Regions from separate parts of the Homo sapiens genome. Here region 2 is linked to region 1. Evidence: fine-mapped expression QTL. A gene starts in region 1. The other region holds a variant in brackets. All regions are shown on one strand. Distances are between the middles of the regions. Region 1 holds the start of TOMM6 (translocase of outer mitochondrial membrane 6). Region 2 overlaps USP49 (ubiquitin specific peptidase 49).

Evidence for each region. PIP is the estimated chance that this variant, and not a neighbour inherited with it, causes the effect.
Region 2: its variant is fine-mapped to the expression of TOMM6 in T cells (TOPMed, PIP 0.99).

What each region holds. Positions count from the first base shown.
Region 1 is chr6:41,785,133-41,790,276 of GRCh38, forward strand. TOMM6 (translocase of outer mitochondrial membrane 6) reads left to right here and starts at 2,562. Exons shown (of 3, transcript NM_001382294.1): 1 at 2,562-2,693; 2 at 4,100-4,204; 3 at 4,436-4,763. The coding sequence starts at 2,566. The coding sequence ends at 4,196. It overlaps PRICKLE4 (prickle planar cell polarity protein 4), which reads left to right. Exons shown (of 8, transcript NM_013397.6): 6 at 205-408; 7 at 996-1,200; 8 at 1,630-2,320. The coding sequence ends at 1,997. It overlaps USP49 (ubiquitin specific peptidase 49), which reads right to left. Exons shown (of 8, transcript NM_001286554.2): 8 at 4,764-5,144. RefSeq lists a silencer at 1,110-1,629 and enhancers at 2,250-3,249, 2,320-3,009.
Region 2 is chr6:41,848,089-41,853,613 of GRCh38, forward strand. All of the region lies in intron 3 of USP49 (ubiquitin specific peptidase 49), which reads right to left. Among named protein-coding and RNA genes, the nearest start is that of USP49, 45 kb to the right of the region's middle. The variant A/T (reference allele first, on the strand shown) is at 2,370.

The DNA.
Region 1 (5,144 bases):
AGAAGGGGCTGGGCTAGCTTCTGGGATTCTGGTTGGGAAACAGGAAAAACAGAAACCAAGTTTGCAAGCTCTTGGTATAGGTTGCAGTGGATGTGGGCTTGCTAGGGTATGGCGAGAACAGGTTGGGATCGGATTGCAAGAGCAAGGAGGGAAGTTAGGATGGTAGTGCTTACTCCGACCACCTCAGCACCTCCCCTCTGACAGTGTAGGGAGCTGCTGAAGCCAGGGGAGTACGGAGTGTTTGCAGCCCGGGCAGGGGAACAGCGCTGCTGGCACCAGCCTTGCTTTGCCTGCCAGGCCTGTGGCCAGGCCCTGATAAACCTCATCTACTTCTACCATGATGGACAACTCTACTGCGGCCGTCATCATGCAGAGTTGCTGCGCCCGCGCTGCCCGGCTTGTGACCAGGTACAGCCTGGAGGGGAGGAACTGGGGGTCTGCCCAGAGTCCAGAGTGGCAGGATACAAAGGGACACTCTCCTGGGCCACAGTTTCTCCCAGTATCAGGGAGTGGGGAGAAGTAGGAACCAGCCTGGGACTACCAAGTTCCCTGTGTTCTGACTTGAGCTCTGGGCATGTAGGACCCAGTGCCCTTCTCTCTGGCCTCCCCCACTGCAGAGTCCCTCAAATGTTCCTGGACTCATCGAATTTCTCTAGAGCAGGGAGTCTTGGACACATGCTCATCTCAGTAGATGCCGAGTGCCCAGTGCTGTGCCTCATCATGCTAGAAATTCCCTTGATGTCAGCATAAAAGGAAGCCTGGAGCCCTGGGTTGGGAGTCCAGACCCCCAGGTCGCACTGGGGATTGTCCCACTTGCTAGCTGGGATCCTGGCTAAGCCAATCAGTCCTCCCTGCGTCCAAAAGTGGCTGAGTGAATTAAATGGGAATGTGTGCAGACGTGCTTTAGCGTTAACTGGGTAAAAGGCGTGGTTACTGGATGAATGAATGAGGGAATGAATGAATGAAACGTTCCCCTCTCCCTCTCCCTCTCCCAGCTGATCTTCTCCTGGCGCTGCACCGAGGCGGAGGGACAGCGCTGGCATGAGAACCACTTCTGTTGCCAGGACTGCGCCGGGCCTCTGGGCGGGGGACGTTATGCCCTGCCTGGGGGAAGCCCCTGCTGCCCCAGCTGCTTCGAGAACCGCTACTCGGATGCAGGCTCGAGCTGGGCCGGGGCACTGGAAGGGCAGGCATTCCTTGGTAAGGGAGAGGATGCAGAGCAAAGCGGGAGGGAGCTTGGGCTGGGCTGTGGGGGTTCTCCCGGGCTGGGACCCTCGCCCCGGTCCCACGCCGTCCCGTCCCTCCAGGAGCGCCCCCACCGCACCCCCCAGACCCAAGCCTCGGGGCCCGCAGCTCTCACCGCGCATCCCTGGCCGGAGCGTTCCAAGGGCCGCCCGAACCCACCCCGCGCCGCGGTCGGGGTTGCGGCGCCAGACTCCCTCCCAGGCGCGGGAGGCGGACGCCCTCTGGTGGAGGCGGGGGACCCTGGCGAGGACTCTCGGCGGCGGCGGCGGCGCGCACGGCCCAGGGGCTGGGCGGGGCGGGAGGCTGGGCCTCACCCCCACTAGCTGCGGTGTAGGTCCAGCTCCGCGGCTCTGAGACCAGCGTTTCCGACCCGGCCCGGAACAGGGGAGACTGGACTCGACCGAACTGAAGGAAGGGACCAAACCTCGGTGAACTCTGCAACCCTCTCCCGAACACTCCTCGCTGCTGCCGGCGGTTCCAGCCTGCAAACTCAGAGGGGGCTGCCTGGATCCAGTCCCCAGCAGGAGAACCGACCTGGGGACAAAGCGGAGGCACCCAAAGGGCAGGAGCAATGCCGCCTGGAGACTATTCGTGATCCCAAGGACACCCCTTTCTCCACCTGCTCCTCCTCCTCTGACTCGGAACCTGAAGGATTTTTCTTAGGCGAGCGCCTTCCCCAGTCCTGGAAGACCCCCGGAAGCCTCCAAGCAGAGGACAGCAACGCCTCTAAGACGCACTGCACCATGTGCTAGTGGCGCAGCTCAGAGAGGGGATGTGAGTGGGAGGAAAGGGGTCTGTAAAGCGGGAGAACAAGGCTAGCCTCCCCCTAACAATCCTAGACTGAGACGCAGTCAGGCGCACGCCCGCAAGAGGCGGCGAGGTGACAAGTTTGGAGTGCGCCCCCTTCAGTACTGCGCGTTCTAAGACTTTTGGCGGAGACTTTCTTGGCAAAACCCATTCCCCAAAGCTACGCTTCCCCTGCTGAGATAGCCCCTACCCCCACCTCCACAGGCTGGGACAGCCCCGTCCCCACCATCCTCCTCCCAAGCCAATTAAATGATCACAGCACGCGTGACAGTTACCGGCTGGAGAGCCGGAGGTGGGACCGGGAGCAGGGGACCGTAGAACCGGGCCGCGCTCCTCCCCTCCTAGAGTTCGTGGAGGCGCAGCAGAGGGCCGTCCCTCTTCCGGATGTCGGACTAAGCGAACAGCGCCCCCACTGCCGGCCGGTAGCAGCCGGAAGTGCCAGACCGGAGGTGCGTCATTCACCGGCGACGCCGATACGGTTCCTCCACCGAGGCCCATGCGAAGCTTTCCACTATGGCTTCCAGCACTGTCCCGGTGAGCGCTGCTGGCTCGGCTAATGAAACTCCCGAAATACCGGACAACGTGGGAGATTGGCTTCGGGGCGTCTACCGCTTTGCCACTGATAGGAATGACTTCCGGAGGTAACCGAGCCCGAGGAACTTGGTCCTTTTCTGGCCCTTAAATCCGTATTTCCCCTTTCTTGCGAGGCTGGCGCCTCAGGGTTTTTTGTTTTTGTTTTTTAACATTACCAGCATTGTGGCGTCTTCGTAGCTCTGGCTGTGCCTCACTGAGATCCCTGGCCAGGAGAGTTCCCGTGTGGCAAAAGCGATCTTTCTGTCATGTGGCTGTATCTGTAATGTCACCCTGATCAAGGGAAGAAGTGCTAGCACGTAAACAGGCTTTTTCGGCCCTGGACTAGTGCTTTAGCTGGGCTTTGCGTTTGATCTTACATTTCTTTTTTGTTTTTTTTTTTTTTTTGAGACGGAGTCTCACTCTGTTGCCCAGGCTGGAGTGCAGTGGCGCGATCTCGGCTCACTGCAAGCTCCGCCTCCCGGGTTCACGCCATTCTCCTGCCTCAGCCTCCCGAGTAGCTGGGACTACGGCCGCCCGCCACCACGCCCTGCTAATTTTTTGTATTTTTAGTAGAGACGGGGTTTCACCGTGTTATCCAGGATGGTCTCGATCTCCTGACCTCGTGATCCGCCCGCCTCGGCCTCCCAAAGTGCTGGGATTACAGGCGTGAGCCACCACGCCCGGCCTTTTTTTTTTTTTTTTTTTTTTTTTTTGAGACGGAGTCTCACTCTGTCGCCCAGGCTGGAGTGCAGAGGCGCAATCTCGGCTCACTGCCCCTTCTGCCTCCCGGGTTCAAGCGATTCTCCTGCCTCAGCCTCCCCAGTAGCTGGGATTACAAGCGCGCGCCACCACGCCCAGCTAATTTTTGTATTTTTAGTAGAGACGGGGTTTCACCATCTTGGGCAGGCTGGTCTCAAACTCCTGACTTCTCGATCCACCCGACTCTGCCTCCCAAAGTGCTGGGATTACAGGCGTGAGCCACCGCGCCCGGCCACATTTATTTCTTTTTGAGACAGCCTCGCTCTGTCGCCCAGGCTGGAGTGTAGTGGCGGACCTCAGCTCACTGCAGCCTCCGCCTCCCGGGTTCAAGCGATTTTCCTGCCTCAGCCTCCCCAGTAGCTGGGATTACAGGCGCGCACCACCACGCCCAGCTAATTTTTGTATTTTTAGTAGAGACGGGGTTTCACCATGTTGGCCAGGCTGGTCTCGAGCTCCTGACTTCGTGATCCGCCTGCCTTGGCCTTCCAAAGTGCTGGGATTACAGGCGTGAACCACCGCGCCCAGCCTGACCTTACACTTACTAGGCACAAAAATGAACTCCAAATTCCCACGTGGGTCTTGAGCAACCTGCCGTCACAACCACGTATCAACGCCTCGGGAAGGTGGTGATGGAAGCCTTTCCCCCCAGTACATTTCGTTAACTGTACAACTGACTCAGTGACCACAGGGTTAATAAAACACATTGTTTTTCCAGGAACTTGATACTAAATTTGGGACTCTTTGCTGCGGGAGTTTGGCTGGCCAGGAACTTGAGTGACATTGACCTCATGGCACCTCAGCCAGGGGTGTAGCCAAGTAGGTAAGCACTGAACTACACCCATGCGTGTCTTAGGAGACCTAGAGACTGGGTGAAGCAATGTTTTCTGTCAAGTATTCATGAAATGTACAAAAGAATGTGATGTAAAACCCTTAACTATTCCTAGTTAAATGTGTTTTCAGATGTTGAAAGGGATTTAAGTATCTCTTACCAGTTTCCCTCCCATACTTTTACAGTTCTAATGCCACCTGTCGTCTTATCATCTGATTGCAGACAAATGGAATCCTGTGCTGAACCCGAATCTTCCAAAAAACAGCCTACAATCTGTGACCACCACAAGATGTGCCCTGATGGCAGCTGAAGTTTGATTCAGATGGGCACTTTTCTTCCCCTTCCCTGCCTAGTTTCCTTTTGTTCCTTGAGTCCACGCAGAATTCCATTCTCTGGTCAGCAGACAGGCTTAAGCTAAAGTATTGCCTCTATTCTGTAAAGTTCTGTACATAGTTCCCAAGCTTCTGCAGGGGGTGATTTTTGCTCTTGTCCTGAGAAATAACAGTGCTGTTTTAAAAAACATTTGAAATAAATACCGCACACAAAGGCAGTCATTTTATTCTTTTAATAAGAAACTTTTGCTTACAAAAACAAGGTGTAAAAAGATTTACAAAAATCATAAAAACATGATTTATATTTCACACTTGAGAGACAAAAACAAGCCCCAAAACATGGATTTTAATGGAGGTGGTTTGCTTCATTTTAAAAGGGAAAAAAAAAAAAGGAAGCTGTAACCATACATTGATGTTAACCTAGCATGAAGTTTATTCTTGAAGAATTTACATTGTTGAGCAATATTAGGGGAAGAAGCCATTTGGTGTTGCATAGCATTTTAGTGCACCAGATGGGTTTTCCAGACACCAGGGAGGCATCATTGCTGGAATAGTGAGGTTTGGTGGCAGAAAGAGGGCAGTGATGTGTAGGGGGAGGC
Region 2 (5,525 bases), 63 kb after region 1:
CTCCAAAGAAGTAGTTTTCTGTATGTGAATGAAGTTTTTAACAATTTAAAACAGAATGCTGTAACTTTAAAGATGATTTATGCAATCACAACAATAAACACAAATAAAGTATCTATAGAATATATATAATAGGAAATGAGAAGAGAATCAACATACATCGCTACAAAAAAAATCAACAAAACACGAAAAAGGCAGTAAAAAAGAAGGGACAAAAAAGCTACAAAATATACCAAAAACAATTAACAAAATGGCAATAGTAAATCCTTCCCTCCCTATTGGTAGCCTATGTTTTGTTTTAGATAGGCTCGCACGCTGTTACCCAGGCTACAGTGCAGTGGCACTATCATGGTTCAGTGCAGCCTCGACCTCCTGGGCTCAAGCAATCCTCCTGCCTCAGCCTCCTGGGTAGCTGGGACTATGGGTGCATGCCACAACATCTGGCTAATTAAAAATATATATATATTTTTTGGAGAAATAGGGTCTTCCCTGGCCGGGTGCAGTGGCTCACACCTGTAATCCCCGCACTTTGGGAGGCCAAGGCACACGGATCATAAGGTCAGGAGATTGACACCATCCTGGCTAACATGAAACCCCATCTCTACTAAAAATACAAAAAATTAGCCAGGTGCAGTGGCAGGCACCTGTAGTCCCAGCTACTTGGGAGGCTGAGGCAGGAGAATGGTGTGAACCCGGGAGGCAGAGCTTGCATTGAGCCAAGATCGCGCCACTGCACTCCAGCCTGGACAACACCAGTGAGACACCGTCTAAAAAAAAAAAAAAAATGAGAGAGAGAGAAATGGGTTCTTCCCTATGTTGCCCAGGCTGGTTTCTAACTCCTGGCCTCAAGTGATCTTCTTGTCTTGGCCTGCCAAAGTGTTGGAATTACAGGCAGGAGCCACCATGCTGGGCCAGTAATTAACTTTAAATGTAAAGTCATATATTGACTGGAGTTAAAAAAGGATCCAACTATATGCTGTCTACAAGAGACTCACTTTAGCTCTAAGGACACATAGATTGAAAAGTCTGGAAAAAGATATTCCATGCAAATGGTAACCAGAAGAGAGCAGGAGTGGCTATATTAATGTCAGACAAAATAGATTTTAAATAAAAAACTCTCATAAAAGATAAAAAATGACATGATAAAAGGGTAAACCAGGAAGATATACAATAATAAATATTTATGCTCCAAACATCAGAGCTTCTAAATATATGAAATAAACTTAGACAGAATTGAAGGGTAAAAGAGCAACACAATTACAGTAGAGAACTTCAAAACTCCACTTTCAATAATGGACAGAACAACCAGACAGAAGATCAACATGGAAAGAGAGGACCTGAACAACATTATACACCAAATGGACCTAATAGACATATATAGAGAACTCTACCTAACAACAGCAGAATATACATTCTTCTCAAGTGCACATGGAACATCTCTAGGAAAGACCAATGTTAGGCCACAAAACAAATCTTAACAAATTCAAGAAGACTAAAATCACACAAAGTATCTTTTCTTTTCTTTCTTTTTTTTTTTTTTGGAGACTGAGTGTTGCTCTGTTGCCAGGCTGGAGTGCAGTGGCATGATCTCAGCTCACTGCAACCTCTGCCTCCCGGGTTCAAGTGATTCCCCTGCCTCAGCCTCCCAAGTAGCTGGGATTACAGGCACGCGCCGCCACGCCCAGCTAATTTTTTGTATTTTAGTAGAGACAAGGTTTTACCATGTTGGCCAATATGGTCTTGATCTCCTGACCTCATGATCCACCGCTTCGACCTCCCAAAGTGCTGGGATTACAGGCATGAGCCACTGTGCCCGGCACAAAGTATCTTTTCTAATGACAATGAAATGAAACTAGAAATCAATGGCACAAGGAAAACTGGAAAATCCACAAATATGTGGAAATTAAACAATCCACTCTTAAAATAGCCACAGGATCAAACAAGTCACAAGAGAAGTTAGAAAATACCTTGAGACAAATAAAAATGAAAATGTATCAAAACATATGGGATACAGGAAAAGCAGTGTTAAGAGGTCAATTTATGGTTGTAAAAGCATATATTAAAAAAGAAGAAAGGTCCAGGTGCGGTGGCTCATGCCCGTAATCTCAGCACTTTGGGAGGCCAAGGTGGGCGGATCACCTGAGGTCAGGAGTTCAAGACCAGCCTGGCCAACATGGTGAAACCCCATCTCTACTAAAAATACAAAAATTAGCCAGACAAGGTGGCACACGCCTCTAGTCCCAACTACTCGGGAGGCTGAGGCAGGAGAATCGCTTGAACCTGGGAGGCAGAGGTTGCAGTGAGCTGAGATCGTGCCACTACACTCCAGCCTGGGCAACAGAGTGAGACTCAGCCTCTAAGGAAAGAAAAAA[A/T]AAAAAAATAAATAAATAAATAATATAAAATAAAATCAGAAATGAAAGGGGAAATTGTAACTGATGTCACAGAAATAAAAAGGATTATAAGAGACTACTATAAACAATTGCACACCAACAAACTGGATAACCTAGAATAAATGGATAAATTCTTTTTTTTTTTTTTGAGACAGAGTCTCATTCTGTTGCCAGGCTGGAGTGCAGTGGCGCCATCTCGGTTCACTGCAACCTCCGCCTCCTGGGTTCCAGCAATTCTCATGTCTCAGCCTCCTGAGTAGCTGGGACTGCAGGTGCGCCACCACGCCCAGCTAATTTTTGTATTTTTAGTAGAGATGCGGTTTCACCATGTTGGCCAGGCTGGTCTCGATCTCTTGACCTCCTGATCCGCCCACCTCGACCTCCCAAAGTGCTAGGATTACAGGCGTAAGCCACCGCGCCTGGCCATGGATAAATTCTTAGAAACACACAACTTACCAAGACTGAATCATGAAGAAATAGAAAAGCTGAAAAAAACCAATGAGTAAGGAGATTAAATCAGTAACCAAAAAACTGCCAACAAAGAAAAGCCCAGGACCAGATGGCTTCACTAGAGAATTCTACCAAACATTAAAAAATAATGAATGCCAAGTTTTCTCAAACTCTTCCAAAAACTGAGGAGGAGGGAACACTTCCAAGCTCATTCTATGATGCCAGCATTACCCTGACACTAAACCAGACACAGACATCAAGAAAAGATAACTACAGATGAATATTCTTTGTGAGTATTGAGGTAAAAACCCTCAACAAAATACTGGAAAATTCAGTAGCATGTTAAAAGAATTACATATTATCAATAAGTAGGACTCATTTCTGGAATGCATGTATGATTCAACATATGAATATCAATCAATGTAACACATCACTTTAACAGAATAAGGACAAAAAGATGACCATCTCAATTGATGCAAAAAAGGCACTGGACAAGATTCAACAAAACACCCTTTTATGACAAAACATCAAACAAAGTATAAATAGAAGGAAACTGCCTCAAAATCATAAAGACCATGTATGAAACCCTCACAGATAATATCATACTCAGTGGTGAAAGAATAAAAGCCTTTTCTCTAAGACAAGGAACAAGCCAAGCATGCACACTCTCACTACTTCTATTCAACATAATGTTGAAAGTTCTAGTCAGTGCAATTAGGCAAATTGGAAAAGAAGTAAATTTACCTGGGCTGGGCAAGGTGGCTCACACCTGTAATCCCAGCACTTTGGGAGGCCAAGGCAGATGGATCACGAGATCAGGAGTTCAAGACCAGCCTGGCCAAGATGGTGAAACCCCATCTCTACTAAAAATACAAAAAAATTAGCCAGGCATTGCGGCGGGCACCTGTAATCCCAGCCACTCGGGAGGCTGAGGCAGACAACTGCTTGAACCTGGGAAGCAGAGGCTGCAGTGAGCTGAGATCGCGCCACTGCACTCCAGCCTGGGAGACAGAGCGAGACTCGTCTCAAAAAAAAAAAAAAAAAAAAAAAAGAAAGAAAAGAAGTAAATTTATCTGTTCTCAGATAACATGATCTAATATATAGAAAATCCTGGGCCGGGCACGGTGGCTCACACCTGTGCTGTAATCCCAGCACTTTGGGTGGACGAGGAGGGCGGATCACCTGAAGTCAGGAGTTCGAGACTAGCCTGACCAACATGGTAAAACCCCATCTCTACTAAAAATACAAAATTAGTTGGGTGTGGTGGTACATGCCTGTAATCCAAGCTACTTGGGAGGCTGAGGCAGGAGAATTACTTGAACCCAGGAGGCGGAGGTTGCAGTGAGCTGAGATTGTGCCCCTGCACTCCAGCCTGGGCAACGAGAGTGAAACTCCATCTCAGAAAAGAAAGAAAAAGAAAATCCTAACGAGTTTGCAAAAAAATTGTTAGAATAGACAAATTCAGCAAAGCTGCAGGATTCAAAATCAATATGCAAAAATCTGCTGTATTTATATACACTAACAATGAACAATTCAAAAGGAAATTTTTTAAAATCTCATTAATAACAGCATAAAATACACTTAGGAATAAAACTGAGCAAGTGAAAGACTTGGACGATGAAGACTATAAAACATTGTGGAAAGAAATTAAAGACACAAATAAATGGAAAGATATCCATGTTCCTGGATTGGAAGACTTGGTATTGTTAAAATGTTAATCCTACCAAAAGCAATATACAGATTCGATGCAAGCCCTATCAAAATCCCAGCAGCAATTTTCTGAAATACAAAAATTAATTCTAAAACTCATATGAAATTTCAAGAGACCTTGAGATATTTAACACCAATGTTCATAGCAGCACTATTCATAACAGCCAAGAAGTGGAGGCAACCAAAATGTCCATCAATGGATAAACGGATAAACAAAATGTGGTATACACATGAGATGGAATATTATTCAGCCTTAAAAATGAAAGAATTCTGGCCAGGCACAGTGGCTCACACCTGTAATCCCAGCACTTTGAGAGGCCTAGGCGGATGGATCACCTGAGGTCAGGAGTTCGAAACCAGCCTAACATGGAGAAACCCCATCTCTACTAAAAATACAAAAATTAGCTGGGCATGGTGGCCTGCGCCTGTAATCCCTGTTACTCAGGAGGCTAAGGCAGGAGAATCGCTTGAACCCAGCAGGTGGAGGTTGCAATGAGCCGAGATGGCGCCATTGCACTCCAGCCTGGGCAACAAGAGCGAAACTCCATCTCAAAAAAAAAGAGCTGGGGGGGAGAATTTTGACACATGCTACAACATAAATGAGCCTTGTGGACTTTAGGCAAAATGAAATATGCCCATCGGAAAAAGACAAATACTGTATGATTCCATTTATATGAGGTATCTAAAGAAGTCAAATTCATAGAGACAAAGTAGAATGGTGGTTGCCAGGGACTGGGGAAGAGGATGGAGAGTTTTTTAATGCGTATAGAGTTTCAGATTTGCAAAATGAAAACTGTTGCAAAATGAAAAACTTTAGAACTGTTTCACAGCAATGCAAATATACTAAATACTAGTGAACTGTACTCTTGAAAATGAAGGGTTTAAGATGTTAAATTTTATGTTTTTTTACCACACACACAAAAAGATAAGCACTAAAACATTTGTCCAATGTAAGATCTCTGACCTCAGAGTTTACAA